Linked DNA regions of Homo sapiens. The protein of the gene in region 1 interacts with the protein of each later gene in a pairwise test. Each region holds a gene or a part of one and is shown in the gene's direction. Other genes may lie near its edges.

Region 1 (4,027 bases):
TATGTAATTTTCATCTCATTAAATATCTTCTTTTGATTATTTTCCAGCCATTTTAAAACTGGAATATCTGTGTGTAGCTCACAGGACCAAACAAAAACAGGTAGAGGGCCAAATTTAGTCTACAGGTGGCAGCTTGCCCACCCCTGGCCCAGATGAGGGCATAAGACACGTACATTTTTTTAAAAGGTGGGTGGTGTGGAGGATTTCACAGCAGGTGTGGTGTTTGGCCCAGATGCCATGAGTGAGGGAACTCCACAGAAGGAAAGATGCCCAGGCCAGTGTTGCTGTGGCCTCCTGAGTGCCCAGCCTGGTTTTTAGGAATGGCCCAAACTCCATCTTCTTCCTGTCAGAGACTTTTGTGGAGCACAGGATATGTCTAGAGATGGGACTTGAGGGTCAGCAAGACCAAGGGCAGGGCCTTGGGCAGACCTGAAACGCTGCCCTAGGGAGGGAGGACCAAGAGCACAGGTGTGGCCTAGAAGTTGACCTTGAGGGACGGTGTCTGGGCAATACTGTTCAGTCGTTAGAGACAGGGGGTCCCACAGGTGGGCCCTCTTCTTGGCCCTGGGACTGTCAGCCCTTAAGTCCCTTCTCTGGGCTCTGCCACTGCAGAAATCCTTCGAGACTCTGGCAGATCAGACAGAGTGGCAGAGTTCACACCTCTTCAAGTATTTCCAGGAGGTGGTACAACTGTGGGAGGCACACCAGAGCGAGCTGTTGGTGCAGGAGCTGGAGCTGGAGAAGAGGATGGAGCAGCACCGGCAGAAGCACAGCCTGGAGAGCCAGGTGAGACCCACACCCGGGGCTCCATGTTTCACACCACAAACAGCAATGAACTCAAACAGATCCTTGACCCAAATGGAGAACCTTAAGCTATGAAATTTGTGCAGATGGGGACATTGAGGCTCACGTTGGTCATGGGATCAGATGGGAGTAGCAGAAATCTCCTGGAACCAAATGTGTCTCTAAGAGCATGCATGAGAGACAGACAGATGGTTCAAGTGAGGAGACGATTAAAGGATGGTATCACGAATCACACACTTTATTGCCATTGAAAGAGAATTTTTTCATAGGTTCACAATGCTTAAAGAGGGGGAGAATAACATGAACCAACCTCAAAAGGAATACATCCACAGGGAGTAGACAAGGTACTTTAGGCACATTGTGAGCTGCAAAGCTATTAAAGTCTAGTTGTTCAATAAGGATGGATGCAGGCTTCCATGGGAAGTCTAATAAAAGCTTCAGGTGTGCCTTTCTATGTGCGGTTTCTCAGGAGAAACTGGCTTGCAAGCGAACACAGTGGACATCTGTGATGGCACATAGGTCCCTGGAAGCCAGAGGGTAGTGCCGGTGCTGGTGGCATGGCTTCATAGCCCCAGTGCCTATCACAGCCTGAGCTCTCTCTCATTCAAAGAAGCCACTGACAGAGTGAAACCTGCCTCAGCCTAAGCTCTTGAAGTGTCAAACTCTTGAGTATTTCGAAGTCCAGTAGTTAAGGTTAACTCACATATGGGGGGCTGTTAAGGGTGACATCACATTCCCAAGGTGAGTGGGGGGAATAACTCCAAGTTCTCCTATATGGGGTCTGATAAGACATCACATTCTGAAAGAAAAAGGGGAAGACACTCCAAGTTCTTATTACAGACAAACATGTCATTCATGTAGCAAATTGTGCACGTGTTGGGAATCATTTCAAAGCTCCATAACTGGGGCAATCTCCTGCCTGCACAGGAGGTCAGCTGGCCCCTGCCTTGCCTGCTCTCACACAGTCCAGGAGGTGGGGGAACAAACTCAGCTTCTGATTTCAAGCACGACTGGTGAGAAGAAGAGCGAGGAGCAGGTGTAGTGCAGGCCTGACCAGGTGGGCGGGTGTGAGGGCCCTGTCTCCAGGGGGTCCCATCTGAGCTGGTTCCCTAGGGGTATGATGTGGGCAGGGAAGAACACTGCAGGCAGAGAAAAGTCTGGAGGGCTATAGTGGAGAGAGGGAGGGTGGTGGCAGATTGGGTACCCCATTTGTAGAAAGGAAGTCCTGGGTCTGCTGAGGCACCTGGGCCTCAGTTCCAGCAGCAGGGTCCCTGCAGGTCACTTACACTCTGTGAGCACTGGAGGTCACATCTGCTTCCTCTTGTTTTGGGGGTGGCTTCCAGGTGCAGGAGGCCCACCTCGATAGGCTCTTGGACCAACTGAGGCAGCAAAGTGACAAAGAAACACTGGCGTTTCACCTGGAAAAGGTCAAAGATTATCTGAAGAACATGAAATCCAGGTAGGCCAACCAGACTCCAGAAGGCAGGAAGGGATGGTCAGGAATTCATCTTCAAGGTCAAGGGCAGCCTGCCCAAGAGCCCAGGAGCCTGCCAGCTTAAGATGAAAATTGTGCCTCTCACTTTAGAAAGCATGTGGCCCTCTGCAGCTCTACTCTCAGCCAACAAAGAAGCTTCCAGGGAGAATTTTTTAAAGTTTTTGGAGGGAGGTTTCAAAGCAATGCAGCTTAAGTTCAAGAACATGGGGCCTTCTTTTAAAAATTTAAAGATGTGGATGGATCACCTGAGGACAGGAGTTCAAGACCAAGCTGGCCAACATGGTGAAACCCCACCTCTACTAAAAATACAAGAATTAGCCAGATGTGGTGGCAGGTCCCTGTAATCCCAGCTACTCAGGAGGCTGAGGCAGGAGAATCACTTGAACCCAGGAGACGGAGGTTGCAGTGAGAGGAGATCATGCCATTGCACTTCAGCCTGGGTGACAGAGTGAGACTCTGTCTCAAAAACAAAAAAAAATTTAAACATGTACATTCTTGTTAAAGGGGGAAAAAGAAGTTAACCACTGCAAACATATAGAGATTTTTTTCCCTCATTCCTGCCCACTTTTCCTTTTTTATGGGCATATACATTTATATATATGAATATATACACATACATAGTGTTTTTAAAATAAAGGTTGGATTATACCGTGCAAATTGTTCCATAACTACAGATATACTTCCTTTTTTAAATGCCTTGTAGCATTCATTAATGTAGATACTTCATAATGGTTTAGCAATCCCTCAATTGATTAGCTGTTTTCTATTGGTTCCAATTTCTCAATATGACAAGCAGTTCTCTGTGAACTTTCTTGCATCTTTGTGACTTTGTACAGCTGATTCTGTAAGGACTGTTCACAGAAATAGAACGACACTGCCAATTGATTGCAGTACTTAGATTCAGAAGGCAATTCTGATTACTTTAGGCAAGTACGTAACCCTATGAGCCTTGGTCTACTTCTCTGAGAAATAGAAGTCTGGACCTTGGGGCATTTGCGAGTTTGATGGAATAATGTAGGTACCGTCAAGTTCGAGGACAGCATTAAGACCAAAGACAGAGTTAGGACCCTGGACAGGGAAAGGGAGCTCATGTTACAAGCAGAAAAGTCTCTTGTGTGTGTTTTCCAAACTTTCTACAAAAAGTATGTATTTCTCGTATGATCAGAAAAATAGCATAGCCAAGGACTGCTGCTATAAAAGAGCAGCCACACAGCAGCTCTACACAGAGTTGTGTGCCAGATTGCAGCCCATCTCCTTGGGGTCAGGGGTGTGGTTCCTAGCTGGGGTCTCCTGTCTTACCTACCTACCTCCCAGGTATGAATGTTTTCACACCCTCCTGACAAAGGAAGTGATGGAGTACCCAGCGATCATGCTGAAAGAACTCAACTCCTACAGCTCTGCCCTCAGCCAATACTTCTTTGTGCGTGAAATCTTTGAACAGGTATGGAGAGGGTGATGATACACCCAGCCACTCATGAAGAAGCTAAGGGAGAGGCTGACTTCTTGTTATGATCTGCCTAGACTTTGAAAGCCATTCCTAATGCTGCAGAGTTCAAATCAATGCAAGAAGAAAGAAGCTGAAAGTGTCTCTAAAGAGACCATCTCTTTCTCAGTATAAAAGAGGCTGAAGGGTTCAGAATTCAGGGCTCAAGCCTGAATGGACTTATAATGAAAAGGTTAATTTATATGGTGCTTGGAATTCCATTTATCATACCTACCACTGCCACA
Region 2 (4,027 bases), on another chromosome or scaffold:
ACGTTTGAGAAGCCCAAGTCTAAGGCAGGATAAACATGGCCCGAGGGGAATCTGGGCATCACCTCTTTCTGTACAGCCAGGGAGATGGGAATGGTTTTTACATTTTTTAATGGTTGGGAAAAAAAAAGAAGACTATTTCTTGACACATTAAAATTATATGAAATTAGTATTTCAGTGTCCATAAATAAAGTTTTATTGGAACACAGCTACGATATTCACATATTGTCTATGGCTGCTTTGGCTCAAAAAGAATTGTTGAGTAGGCATGACAGAAATCGTGTGGCCCAAAAAGCCTAAAATATTTATGATCTGGCCCTTCAGAAAACGTTCTCCGGCTTGTGATCTAAAGTGCACTGGAAGTACATTCTTTGTGGGTTTCCAAGTAGCTTGTACACCAAGGTTAGCTGATTATAACAATGTGTTGTTTAACGATCCTTTATCATATTAAAGTTGAATTAATAAGGCAAAATCAGTATTTAAACATAAGAATTATATATTCAAGCTTCAAACTTGAGGAAATGCCACTTTGACTTTTTTTTTTTTTTTTAAGATGGAGTCTCACTCTGTCACCAGGCTGGAGTGCAGTGGTGCAATCTCGGCTCACTGCAACCTACACCTCCTGGGTTCAAGCGATTCTCCTGCCTCAGCCTCCCAAGTAGCTGGAACTACAGGCGCGTGCCACCACACCCAGCTAATTTTTGTATTTTTAGTAGAGACAGGGTTTCACCATGTTGGCCAGGATGATCTCGATTTCTTGACCTCATGATCCGCCCGCCTCAGCCTCCCAGTGTGCTGGGATTACAGGTGTGAGACACTGCACCCAGCCCTGACTATGTTTTCTAAATGAGATGCTGGTGAACTAAAGAGTTTCTTAGTTTACCTTTTGTTTCCTAAAAAATGAAATTATGGGGAAAATAATAAAACTTATAGGATAAAAATTAGTAATACTGGTAATCTCTGGAGAGAGAAACTAGAAGGGGTGGGGGCAAGAGTATAAAGGAGACTTTATTAAATTCCCTTTTGTGCCTTTCAGAATTGGATCTGGGATTCAAACATATGGGATAAGTTTGCTATCATTTTCCCCATAATTTCATGTTTTAGGAAATAAAAGATACAATTGTTACTCCTCAGAATGTTTTGTCTTATGCTGTTGTTAGATAGTTTGAATTAAGTCTTCTCTGTCCTCAACACACATGATGGTTGTCGTCTTGCTCTGAGAATCAAAGTTCACAATCCTTGCTCATCTAGGTGGGAACCTGCTCGTGCTGGTGGATCAGCACGCTGCCCATGAGCGTATACGTCTGGAGCAGCTTATCATTGGTAAGGATCTGTTTGCAGCCAGAAAAAATTTGAGACTCCCAGCAGAATCAGTACACCTCAAAGAGCTTTTCTAACTGCAACTGTTGTGAGAAAGCACACTTTGTACTGTATGTTCAAAAATTAAACTAAAGTCCTGCAGTTTGGCCTGTGTTATAATTGAAAGAATGTGGTAGTTCACTAATTGAAAGATGTGAACTTATTTATGTGGTCAGAGGCATATTTGCCAGATGTTATTAACAACCCAGAAGTACGCAAGGATAGGCTGCTTACTCTGACATCCAGCACAAAGCTCTGCCCCTCCATATGCCCGGTGATCTTGGCATGCCTTCCCACACTCCATCAGGCAGAGACCAGTGGCAGCTCAGAAGGCCCAGTATGCTGTTTTGATTTTAAAATTTAGTTTGCTTTTGAATATGCAGTATAATCAAATAGATCCAATTCTGAAAGGCACAAAAGGGAATATAATAAAGTCTCCTTTCTATCCTTGTCCCCACCCCTCCTAGTTTCTCTCCCCAGAGACAACCAATATCTCTGGTTTTTAAATCTATCTTTCCAAAGCAATATATGCTTTTTAAATGTTTTTTTTTGCTACCCTTTTCCTCATCATGAGGCAGTGTGTTCACCAAGTGGTAAAATACCAGGAAAGTCTTTACTCCTGTGGCCAATGAGTAATGTCAAAGAGTTAGGCAAGGACCTAAGGAGTGCTTCATGGACTAGAATGGCAATGATATTACTACTGTTTTCACTTTTCCTTATAAAATGACGGCCTAAGAGTTGGGAAAGATATAGTAAAAACAGTGTTAGAAAAACTTACCTCTACAGGCCCTGCACCATTTGAGAATAGTACTAATTCTCTCCAGAGACTGGGAGACCCTGCTCAAGGAAAGGGAAGCCTTCTGGAGCCATAAGACTGTGTGGTCAACCCACATATGTTCCTGGTAATCCACATTATTCACCTCTGTCATCAAAACAACATTTATTAACTACAGGAACATTGGCTTGTTCATCTGAATGTAAGATGCAAGTCTTATATTTCTTATTTTGAAAAATACTACCAAAATTGTTAATAGGCTGAATATTTATTAGTTTGACTTTAAAAATGGAAATCCAAAATCTAAAACTGAACATTAAACATTCTGCTTTGCATTAGAATGATTATCTCAAGGCCGTGCTTTATTTTTATCTGAATCTAGAAGACTTCCCTTCCTACTCTTAACCCATTCATCTTTCTGCCAATAGATTCCTACGAGAAGCAACAGGCACAAGGCTCTGGTCGGAAAAAATTACTGTCTTCTACTCTAATTCCTCCGCTAGAGATAACAGTGACAGAGGAACAAAGGAGACTCTTATGGTCAGTACCACCATGAGAATGTGATGTTGATGGTATCAATTCTCACAATAATTCTGTGAGGAATAAGCATAACTATTGTTCCATTTCTCAGATGAGACCAAGAGAGGTTACAAGACTTGTCTAAGGTCATAGCAGTTATTAAGTAGTGGAGCAGGCACTCAAAGGCAGGTCGTCTGACTCCACAGGCTGTTTGTTTCCTTTTTTAAAATATATTTTTTTCTGCATCCAATCATCCATTAAAATATTTATTTTGTGAGACATGGTCTCACTCTGTTGTCCAGGCTGGAGTGCAGTGGCACAATCTCTGCTCACTGCAACCTCCACCTTCCAGGCTCAAGCAGTCCTCCCACTTCAGCCTCCCAAGTACCTGGAACTACAGGTGAGCACCACCATGCTGGACTAATTTTTGTAATTTTTTGGTAGAGATGGGTTTTCGCCATGTTACCCAGGCTGGTCTGAACTCCTAGGCTCAAGCGATCCTCCCACTTTGGCCTCCCAAAGTGCTGGGATTACAGGCGTGAGCCACTGGACCCAGCCTATTCTTTCCACTGTATCCCAGCTGAAGAGTATAGGATAGAGTTTCCCTGATAATTTTTTCCAGCAGTTGGCTTAGAACACTCTTCTCATTTCTTGGAACAGTCTGTGTTTATGCCATGCTTTGTGAAAGCAAAGTTTCTGCAGTAATTGGTCCCATTCTGCTTTGCTTTGGTGCATTCTAGACTCTTAGTTTTCATTATCGTAATCATAATGGGAAGAAAGTAAAACATTGGGATGTAAGGAAGGGGCGAATCATATAGTGAGTCACAAGATAGGATATTTTTCCTCTTCTAGGCAGCACAAATTATTGAAAATGAAAAAGAAATTTCTCCCAATATGTTTCAGGTTTGGGAATATGATACTGCCAGTAAATCTTTTTTTCCCTATGACATAATTTATATTAGAGGCAGATCTATTTACTTACATCCCGTTAGTCAGGACTTCTCAATTCCTTGGGCTGTTAATTACCTCCCTGCTTTAATGCTGATTCAAATCACTCTCAGACCTTTTCTTCATGCCAGACTCCCTTAAGTGCCAGCAGCCAGAAGTTAGCAGTTCCTCAATGAAGAAAACACACTTAGAAACAAGACTTAGACACAGATTGATTCCCAATGGAAAAGAGAAAAACAATAAAGGTTACTGTAATTCAAAAAGGAAATTTGATAATAAAAAATCCCAAACACCCACACATAAGTGTGAGAAAAACAATACGGTTGTTAAGCCCTGTGGCAGCTTTTGAAAAACTATTAAGTAGTATTTGGAACCAGTAGTGAAGTGCAAATGAAGTAGCACTCTTTTTTTTTTTAACATTTGAGGTTA
Region 3 (4,027 bases), on another chromosome or scaffold:
TGCATTGCTCATAGAGGAAATAAACTGAGGTTTATTTCCAACTCTTCTGTCTTCCCAAATATAACAATAACTGTGCTTCAAAGCTGTAGAGATGAAAGCGAAGGCCGATTTGTGCAATATTGAAGAATAATAAGAGATTTGGAGGGAGGAAAGGAATTGGAAGAGGAAGAGGAGAAGGCAGGAGATCCCACACAGTTTAGTCAAATGGTGGTACACAACCGAGCTGGATGGTATTTTCTTCTGCGTGTGAGTTGTGAAGACTTTTTATGAGATCTTAGGAGAAGAGGTGGGTGTAGTACTGGGAGTAAGTGTCACAAATTAGAGTAAACAGGAATGAGTCTGGTCAAAGAACATATTTCTGACTTCCGGGTTCAAATTTTAATTATGCCAGAATCCCTGAGCTGCAAAAAGTTGCCTTCTTGGGGAGTCAAAGCTTTTAAACAAATGAACTGGAACCTCAGCGCCCACTGAGCTATGCAGAAGAGTCCTAGAAGCCAGCGCTCCATGCTTGCCACTCATTGTCCTGTGAAACTTGGGCCACAGGATATTTTCCACACCAGTGGAAAAGACATGTATCATACCGAATTGTGCCCTTTGATATCCTGCCGAAAAGGCCAAGATGCAATAGTCCGTGTGACAGCTTATCCCTGAGTCCTGTACATAAATCGGGCATAATCAGCAAAGACGTTCCTTAGTGTTTATGAATGCCGCGAGCTGTCAGGGCTGGGTATTTGTGAAGCCTTGTTCAATTGGCTGGAGCATGACTGAGGTTGAAACTTCACAGGTCAGCTGTGGCCTGAGCGCTAGCCTTCATGTCTTGTGGGGGAGGGGAAGAAAAGGTACTGGTAAGAGTCTCCAAAGCACTGATAGTGGACTGAATCTGCTTGATGACCCACCTTGATCCAGGGCCCCTTTACTCCAGTGGGAGACCTTATACATTTTTAGTGTCTAGAGATTTAAGTTGCCACTCTTCTTAGTGTTTGAAAACTACCTTTTTAATTGCAAGAGGGAATATAAACATACACCAACAAAAGACAGCACAATGGAAGGCAGCCCAGAGGCAGTCCTGCTCATTGCTGACTTCAGTTCAAAATATTTTGCATGCCTGGAATTTTCACCATCTCAGAGGTTTCCTCTATGAGCAATTAAAGAACAGCCTATGGATCCCAGAGTTTCCATAAAATAGTTCTTATTTAACTTGCAACATTTGGTCAGGCACTCTCCTGTTAAATTCTTTAAATACATCTTTGTTATTTAAAGAACAAAACAAAACACCGGGCACTGTGGCTCATGCCTGTAATCCCAACACTTTGGGAAGCCCACGTGGGAGGATCGCTTGAGGCCAGGAGTTTGAGACCAGCCTAGGCAGCATAGTAAGACTACTGCTCTCTACAAAAAATTTAAAAAAGAAAAAGAATATGTAAGTGGGGCTGGGCACAGTAGCTTATCCCTGTCACCGCAGCACTTTGGGAGGCTCAGGTGGGAGGATCACTTGAGGTCAGCAGTTCAGAATCAGCCTGGGCAATACAGCCTGTACAACAGAGTGAGACCCTATTTTTAAAAAAAAAAAAAAAAAAACTTTAAAATTAAAATCATGAAGTACAAGGGGGAAATTGATACTACTGGCATATTATGAGCAGCCTCCTGCTCATGCCCTGCTCCCTGCTGGCTGCCAGCCCCAGTGTGTGAATGGCTCCTTTCTGTCTTTGCAGAGTGACGATTCAGACGAGGATGAGCCTTGTGCCATCAGTGGCAAATGGACTTTCCAAAGGGACAGCAAGAGGTGGTCCCGGCTTGAAGAGTTTGATGTCTTTTCTCCAAAACAAGACCTGGTCCCTGGGTCCCCAGACGACTCCCACCCGAAGGACGGCCCCAGCCCCGGAGGCACGCTGATGGACCTCAGCGAGCGCCAGGAGGTGTCTTCCGTCCGCAGCCTCAGCAGCACTGGCAGCCTCCCCAGCCACGCGCCCCCCAGCGAGGATGCTGCCACCCCCCGGACTAACTCCGTCATCAGCGTTTGCTCCTCCAGCAACTTGGCAGGCAATGACGACTCTTTCGGCAGCCTGCCCTCTCCCAAGGAACTGTCCAGCTTCAGCTTCAGCATGAAAGGCCACGAAAAAACTGCCAAGTCCAAGACGCGCAGTCTGCTGAAACGGATGGAGAGCCTGAAGCTCAAGAGCTCCCATCACAGCAAGCACAAAGCGCCCTCAAAGCTGGGGTTGATCATCAGCGGGCCCATCTTGCAAGAGGGGATGGATGAGGAGAAGCTGAAGCAGCTCAACTGCGTGGAGATCTCCGCCCTCAATGGCAACCGCATCAACGTCCCCATGGTACGAAAGAGGAGCGTTTCCAACTCCACGCAGACCAGCAGCAGCAGCAGCCAGTCGGAGACCAGCAGCGCGGTCAGCACGCCCAGCCCTGTTACGAGGACCCGGAGCCTCAGTGCGTGCAACAAGCGGGTGGGCATGTACTTAGAGGGCTTCGATCCTTTCAATCAGTCAACATTTAACAACGTGGTGGAGCAGAACTTTAAGAACCGCGAGAGCTACCCAGAGGACACGGTGTTCTACATCCCTGAAGATCACAAGCCTGGCACTTTCCCCAAAGCTCTCACCAATGGCAGTTTCTCCCCCTCGGGGAATAACGGCTCTGTGAACTGGAGGACGGGAAGCTTCCACGGCCCTGGCCACATCAGCCTCAGGAGGGAAAACAGTAGCGACAGCCCCAAGGAACTGAAGAGACGCAATTCTTCCAGCTCCATGAGCAGCCGCCTGAGCATCTACGACAACGTGCCGGGCTCCATCCTCTACTCCAGTTCAGGGGACCTGGCGGATCTGGAGAACGAGGACATCTTCCCCGAGCTGGACGACATCCTCTACCACGTGAAGGGGATGCAGCGGATAGTCAATCAGTGGTCGGAGAAGTTTTCTGATGAGGGAGATTCGGACTCAGCCCTGGACTCGGTCTCTCCCTGCCCGTCCTCTCCAAAACAGATACACCTGGATGTGGACAACGACCGAACCACACCCAGCGACCTGGACAGCACAGGCAACTCCCTGAATGAACCGGAAGAGCCCTCCGAGATCCCGGAAAGAAGGGATTCTGGGGTTGGGGCTTCCCTAACCAGGTCCAACAGGTAAGAACTTTTCTCCTGCCTCCGGGTGTGGGGCACTGGGGGTCAGAAAGACATTGCCTGTGCTTGTTCTGTGGGAAGAAATGGGATTAAGTCTGGCATTCTTAGCCATGTCCATTCCTAAGGAAGGTGTCAAACCAGGAAGCACCAAAATTCAAAGAAATCGATAGGATTGAATGGGTATAGAGTTCCGGTTGGGGAAGATGAAAAAAGTTCTGGAGATGGTTGGCAGAGATGGTCACACAATGAGAATGAACTTGGTGCCACTCAACTGCACATTTAAAAATGGTGAAAATGGTGCACTTTATATTGTGTATATTTTCCCATAATGGGGATTAAAGCATGGGATAGAAATCAAGTCCTATCAGTTCCTAAGATAAGATGCCAGCAAGCAGCCCATTGCTAATGTTGCTTCTACCTATTAAAAAGCCTTTGGGCCAGGCACAGTGGCTCACACTTGTAATCCAATACTTTGGGAGGCCGAGGTGGGAGGATCACTTGAGGCCAAGAGTTTGAGACCAAGCTGGACAACATAGGGAGACTCTATCTCTACAAAAAATTAAAAAATGAGTCAGATGTGGTGGCACAGGCCTACAGTCCTGGCTACTCAGGAGGCTGAGGCAGGAGGATCACTTGAGCTGAGGAGTTCAAGGCTGCAGTGAGCTGTGATGGCACCACTGCACTCCAGCCTGGGCAACAGAGCAAGAAAAAATAAAATAAATAAAATCAAATAAAAAGGCTTCACACTCATTTTCCTCTCCTCTTCTCTCGCAGGCACCGACTGAGATGGCACAGTTTCCAGAGCTCACATCGGCCAAGCCTCAACTCTGTATCACTACAGATTAACTGCCAGTCTGTGGCCCAGATGAACCTGCTGCAGAAATACTCACTCCT
Region 4 (4,027 bases), on another chromosome or scaffold:
AAGTAGCTTCCCAAGGTCACACAGCCAGTAAGTGGCAGGCCTGGACCTGAAGCTAGTAATGATATTTAATGGTTCTTGAATTTTGCCACCTATTTCTCTATAAATTATACGATGCAATAGTCTCAAAAATTCAATGGTAATGGACGTTCACTTATAGTATGAATTCTTGTATTTTTTAAGTCTTTGAAAAATAACCAATTGACATAGTTAGGCTGAAGAGTCATATTCTTTTAAACAGTTAGACATGGGATTTGGGAGTCACTCAATTCCAATACCGTCTGGGTATCTGTGGGGACACTAGGCTGGCTCCTTTAGCTTTGCATCATTGCCATCAAACCACAGGCCAATTCTGTGGTCAGGCAGCTGGACCAGCTATACAGTTAGATCAGCTGGTGGGGCTATTTGGTCAAAAGGTCAAATTATTTTGCATAGATAATAGCAAATATTTGGATGCATAATCTCCAAAATCAGATAATCTCATGTTCCTGAGTAACATAGATACACAAGATGTGATAGCTTAGAAGGATCAGACAAGTAGCTCTGTTTGTCTAAATTCCATAGGATTTACAGATGGTTATTGTCATTTCTGGTAGCTTGAATTCCTGTTACATGATACACAGAATACCAAATTAGACCTTAATCCAGAGGTTCATTAATTTCACAGGCATTAAAGTATTTATGGGGCACAGATTTCTTGGGCATGATAATGGTGGGCTTTTCTTTCTTTCTTTCTTTCTTTTTTTGAGAGAGAGTCTTGCTCTGTCACCCAGACTGCAGTGCAGTGGTACAATCATAGCTCATCATAAACTCGGACTTGTGGGCTCAAGTCTCGGTCTCAGTCTCAGTCTCCAGGCATTGGAGTGCAGTGGTGTGATCTCGGCTCACTGTAACCTCCGCCTCCCGGGTTCAAGCAGTTCTTGTGCCTCAGCCTCCCGAGTGGTAGCTGGGATTACAGGCATGCGCCACCATGCCTGGCTAATTTTGTATTTTTAGTAGAGATGGGGTTTCGCCATGTTGCCCAGGCTGGTCTCAAACTTCTGACCTCAACTGATCCACCTGCGTTGGCCTCCCAAAATGCTGGGATTACAGGCATGAGCCACCACACCTGGCCTACAGTCCCCTATTCATTCTTGTTGAGTGGACACAACTGTGTGGCTGCAAGGGGCTTAGCTGAGATTTTTAGAGTCCGGTGGCCCACCACAGGCAGAACAGTGGGGGCACTCTTCCCTGGATGCAGGCAATAAGGGTGCCTTACTTATAGAGAAGGCAAAAATGACAACAAAAGCAACTTAAAGTCAGTTAGCTTTTTATTATCACTATTTGCCAGCAACTCTCAACAATGTTGGTGATAAAATACTCCTTCCCCAGAGACATTTTGTTGGTGAAATTCTAAATCGTTGCTACAGTTACAGTTGAGTTTTGATAATTTATATGTAAGCTTCAGATTAGTATACACATAATATTTACTCTTTAATAATAAGCATTTTATTCTACCTAGACATCGCCAGCCCCTGACAAATGTAATGTCTGCTTTACCATTTGTTTTGAGAGAAAGTTCACTGTGGTTCAAAATCTTGGCTGGGCAGAGTGGCTCACACCTATAATTGCAGCACTTTGGGAGGCCTACGTGGGAGGGTTGCTTGAGGCCAGGAGTTTGAGACCAGCTTGGGCAACATAGCAAGGCCCCATCTTTAAAAAAAAAAAATTAGCTCAGCATGGTCTCACATATGTGTAGGCCTAGCTACTCAGGAGGCTGAGGCAGGAGGATCACTTGAGCCCAGGAGTTCAAGGCTACAGTGAGCTAGGATCATGCCATTGCATTCCAGCCTGGGTGACAGAGTGAGATTCCGTTTCTAACGTTAAACACAAAATATTTTGCGTGCACTTTCAGCACAGTTTGTGTCCCCAGTCTCTGTGGAGCTACAGATTTCTGTGTTTAAACAGTAGAATCAAAATGAATGGTGACAACATATAGACTGCAAAGTAAACAAACAGCCTTGAATGGCTTCAGTTCTGCTGTTTTGTGTGACTGCTTGGAGACTATGAGACGGTGTGAACTACAGGCAGTAATATTTTTGTTTTCTAAGGGCAAATTTTAGCTCATACATGAACTGTTTTGCTGAATTTGAATAATATCTTTGGAGCTGAAATATTTTTTAATGTTTTAAAATTAATCAAAAGATGATAATTACATGACTTTTACTGAAAACAATATTGACATATGAGGAGGGGAGGATTAAAAAGTTATCTTCTCTAGAGTTACCTAAAAGCTATGAGGGCTGGGCATGGTGGCTCACTCCTGTAATCCCAGCACTTTGGGAGGCCAAGGCAGGTGGATCACCTGAGGTCAGGACTTCGAGACCAGCCTGACCAACGTGCTGAGACCCTGTCTCCATGTCTCTACTAAAAATACAAAAATGAGTTGGGTGTGGCGGCGGGCACCTGTAATCTCAGCTACTCAGGGTGCTCAGGCAAGAGAATCACTTGAACCTGGGAGGTGGAGGTTGCAGTGAGCTGAGATTATGCCACTGCCCTCCAACCTGGGCAATAGAGTAAGAATCTGTCTCAAAAAAAAAAAAAAGTTATTGGCCTCAAATATTCCAAAAATGTCATTACTACAGCGCATTTCTCTCTCCTTACGTTTTGCAGTTACTGGCCAACACCTTCCCAAGAACAAGCGTCCAAAAGAACCAGGAGAGAATAGAATCAAACCTACCAACAAGAAGGTGAAGCCCAAAATTCCTAAAATGAAGGACAGGGACTCAGCCAATTCAGCACCAAAGACGCAGTCTATCATGATGCAAGTGCTGGATAAAGGTCGCTTCCAGAAACCCGCCGCTACCCTGAGTCTGCTGGCGGGGCAAACTGTAGAGCTTCGATGTAAAGGGAGTAGAATTGGGTGGAGCTACCCTGCGTATCTGGACACCTTTAAGGATTCTCGCCTCAGGTAAGCATTTTTTTTTAAAACTGTGTAGGGTTGAGGATTTGTAATAGTTAACAAAATTCCTTCTTAACTATTATTACACATTGTTTCTGACATGTTCCATTTTACCCTAATAGATCATAAAAATAGAAGCTCAAAGGGCAAAAGTCACAGATTTTATTTCTTTACCCAGTTAATAACAATTGCAGGCCGGGTGCGGTGGCTCATGCCTGTAATCCCAGCACTTTGGGAGGCCGAGGTGGGCGGATCACGAGGTCAGGAGATCGAGGCTATCCTGGCTAACCCGGTGAAATCCCGTCTCTATTAAAAATACAGAAAATTAGCTGGGCGTGGTGGCAGGTGCCTGTAGTCCCAGCTACTCAGGAGGCTGAGGCAGGAGAATGGTGCGAACCTGGGAGGTGGAGCTTGCATTGAGCCGAGATAGTGCCAGTGCACTCCATCCAGCCTGGGTGACAGAGAGCGAGACTCCATCTCAAAAAAAAAAAAAAAAAAAATTGCAAATCCTACCAACATTTGCTGAAAGAGTGAAATTTTACAGGAAACCATGTGACAAAACCATATGACAATTTTCTATGAAAATGTATGATGTGTGGAATTTTATGGGAAACCAAAATGTTATAGAAAACTATTATGCATAGAGATGGATGTTTAAAAATTCATATTGTGTGGCCAGGTGCAGTGGCTCATGCCTGTAATCCCAGCCCTTTGGGAGGCCAAAGCAGGCAGATCACTTGAGGCCAGGAGTTGGAGATTAGCCTGGCCAACATGGTGAAACCCCGTCTCTACAAGAAATATAAATTAGCCAGATGTGGTAGCATGCACCTGCAATTCCAGTTACTCAGGCAGAGCTGAGGCAGAAGAGTCGCTTGAACCCGGGATGCAGAGGTTACAGTGAGCCGAGTTCGTACCACCGCACTCCAGCCTGGGTGACAGAGTGAAACTCCGTCTCAAAAAAATAAAAAAAAATCATACCGTGAAAGTTAATGGACTCAATGTTTTATGTTGTTTTTTTAAGTAATCATAATGAAAACTGAAATGACCTAACAGGAGATTTCTGTGAGCAACTTGACCAGATATCAACTT

What was found.
Region 2: the proteins of CCDC180 (region 1) and MLH3 interact in a two-hybrid assay, tested with the Homo sapiens proteins (one large-scale study listed by BioGRID and IntAct).
Region 3: the proteins of CCDC180 (region 1) and DLC1 interact in a two-hybrid assay, tested with the Homo sapiens proteins (one large-scale study listed by BioGRID and IntAct).
Region 4: the proteins of CCDC180 (region 1) and PDGFRL interact in a two-hybrid assay, tested with the Homo sapiens proteins (one large-scale study listed by BioGRID and IntAct).

The regions. Positions count from the first base shown.
Region 1 is NC_000009.12:97,324,407-97,328,433, forward strand, and holds part of CCDC180 (coiled-coil domain-containing protein 180), read left to right. Parts: intron 1-612; coding exon 613-786; intron 787-2,147; coding exon 2,148-2,263; intron 2,264-3,613; coding exon 3,614-3,740; intron 3,741-4,027.
Region 2 is NC_000014.9:75,030,712-75,034,738, reverse strand, and holds part of MLH3 (DNA mismatch repair protein Mlh3), read left to right. Parts: intron 1-1,248; coding exon 1,249-1,320; intron 1,321-2,559; coding exon 2,560-2,671; intron 2,672-4,023; coding exon of another isoform or gene 4,024-4,027. UniProt on the Homo sapiens protein: Probably involved in the repair of mismatches in DNA.
Region 3 is NC_000008.11:13,098,456-13,102,482, reverse strand, and holds part of DLC1 (rho GTPase-activating protein 7), read left to right. Parts: intron 1-1,712; coding exon 1,713-3,136; intron 3,137-3,907; coding exon 3,908-4,027. UniProt on the Homo sapiens protein: Functions as a GTPase-activating protein for the small GTPases RHOA, RHOB, RHOC and CDC42, terminating their downstream signaling.
Region 4 is NC_000008.11:17,586,819-17,590,845, forward strand, and holds part of PDGFRL (platelet-derived growth factor receptor-like protein precursor), read left to right. Parts: intron 1-2,649; coding exon 2,650-2,947; intron 2,948-4,027.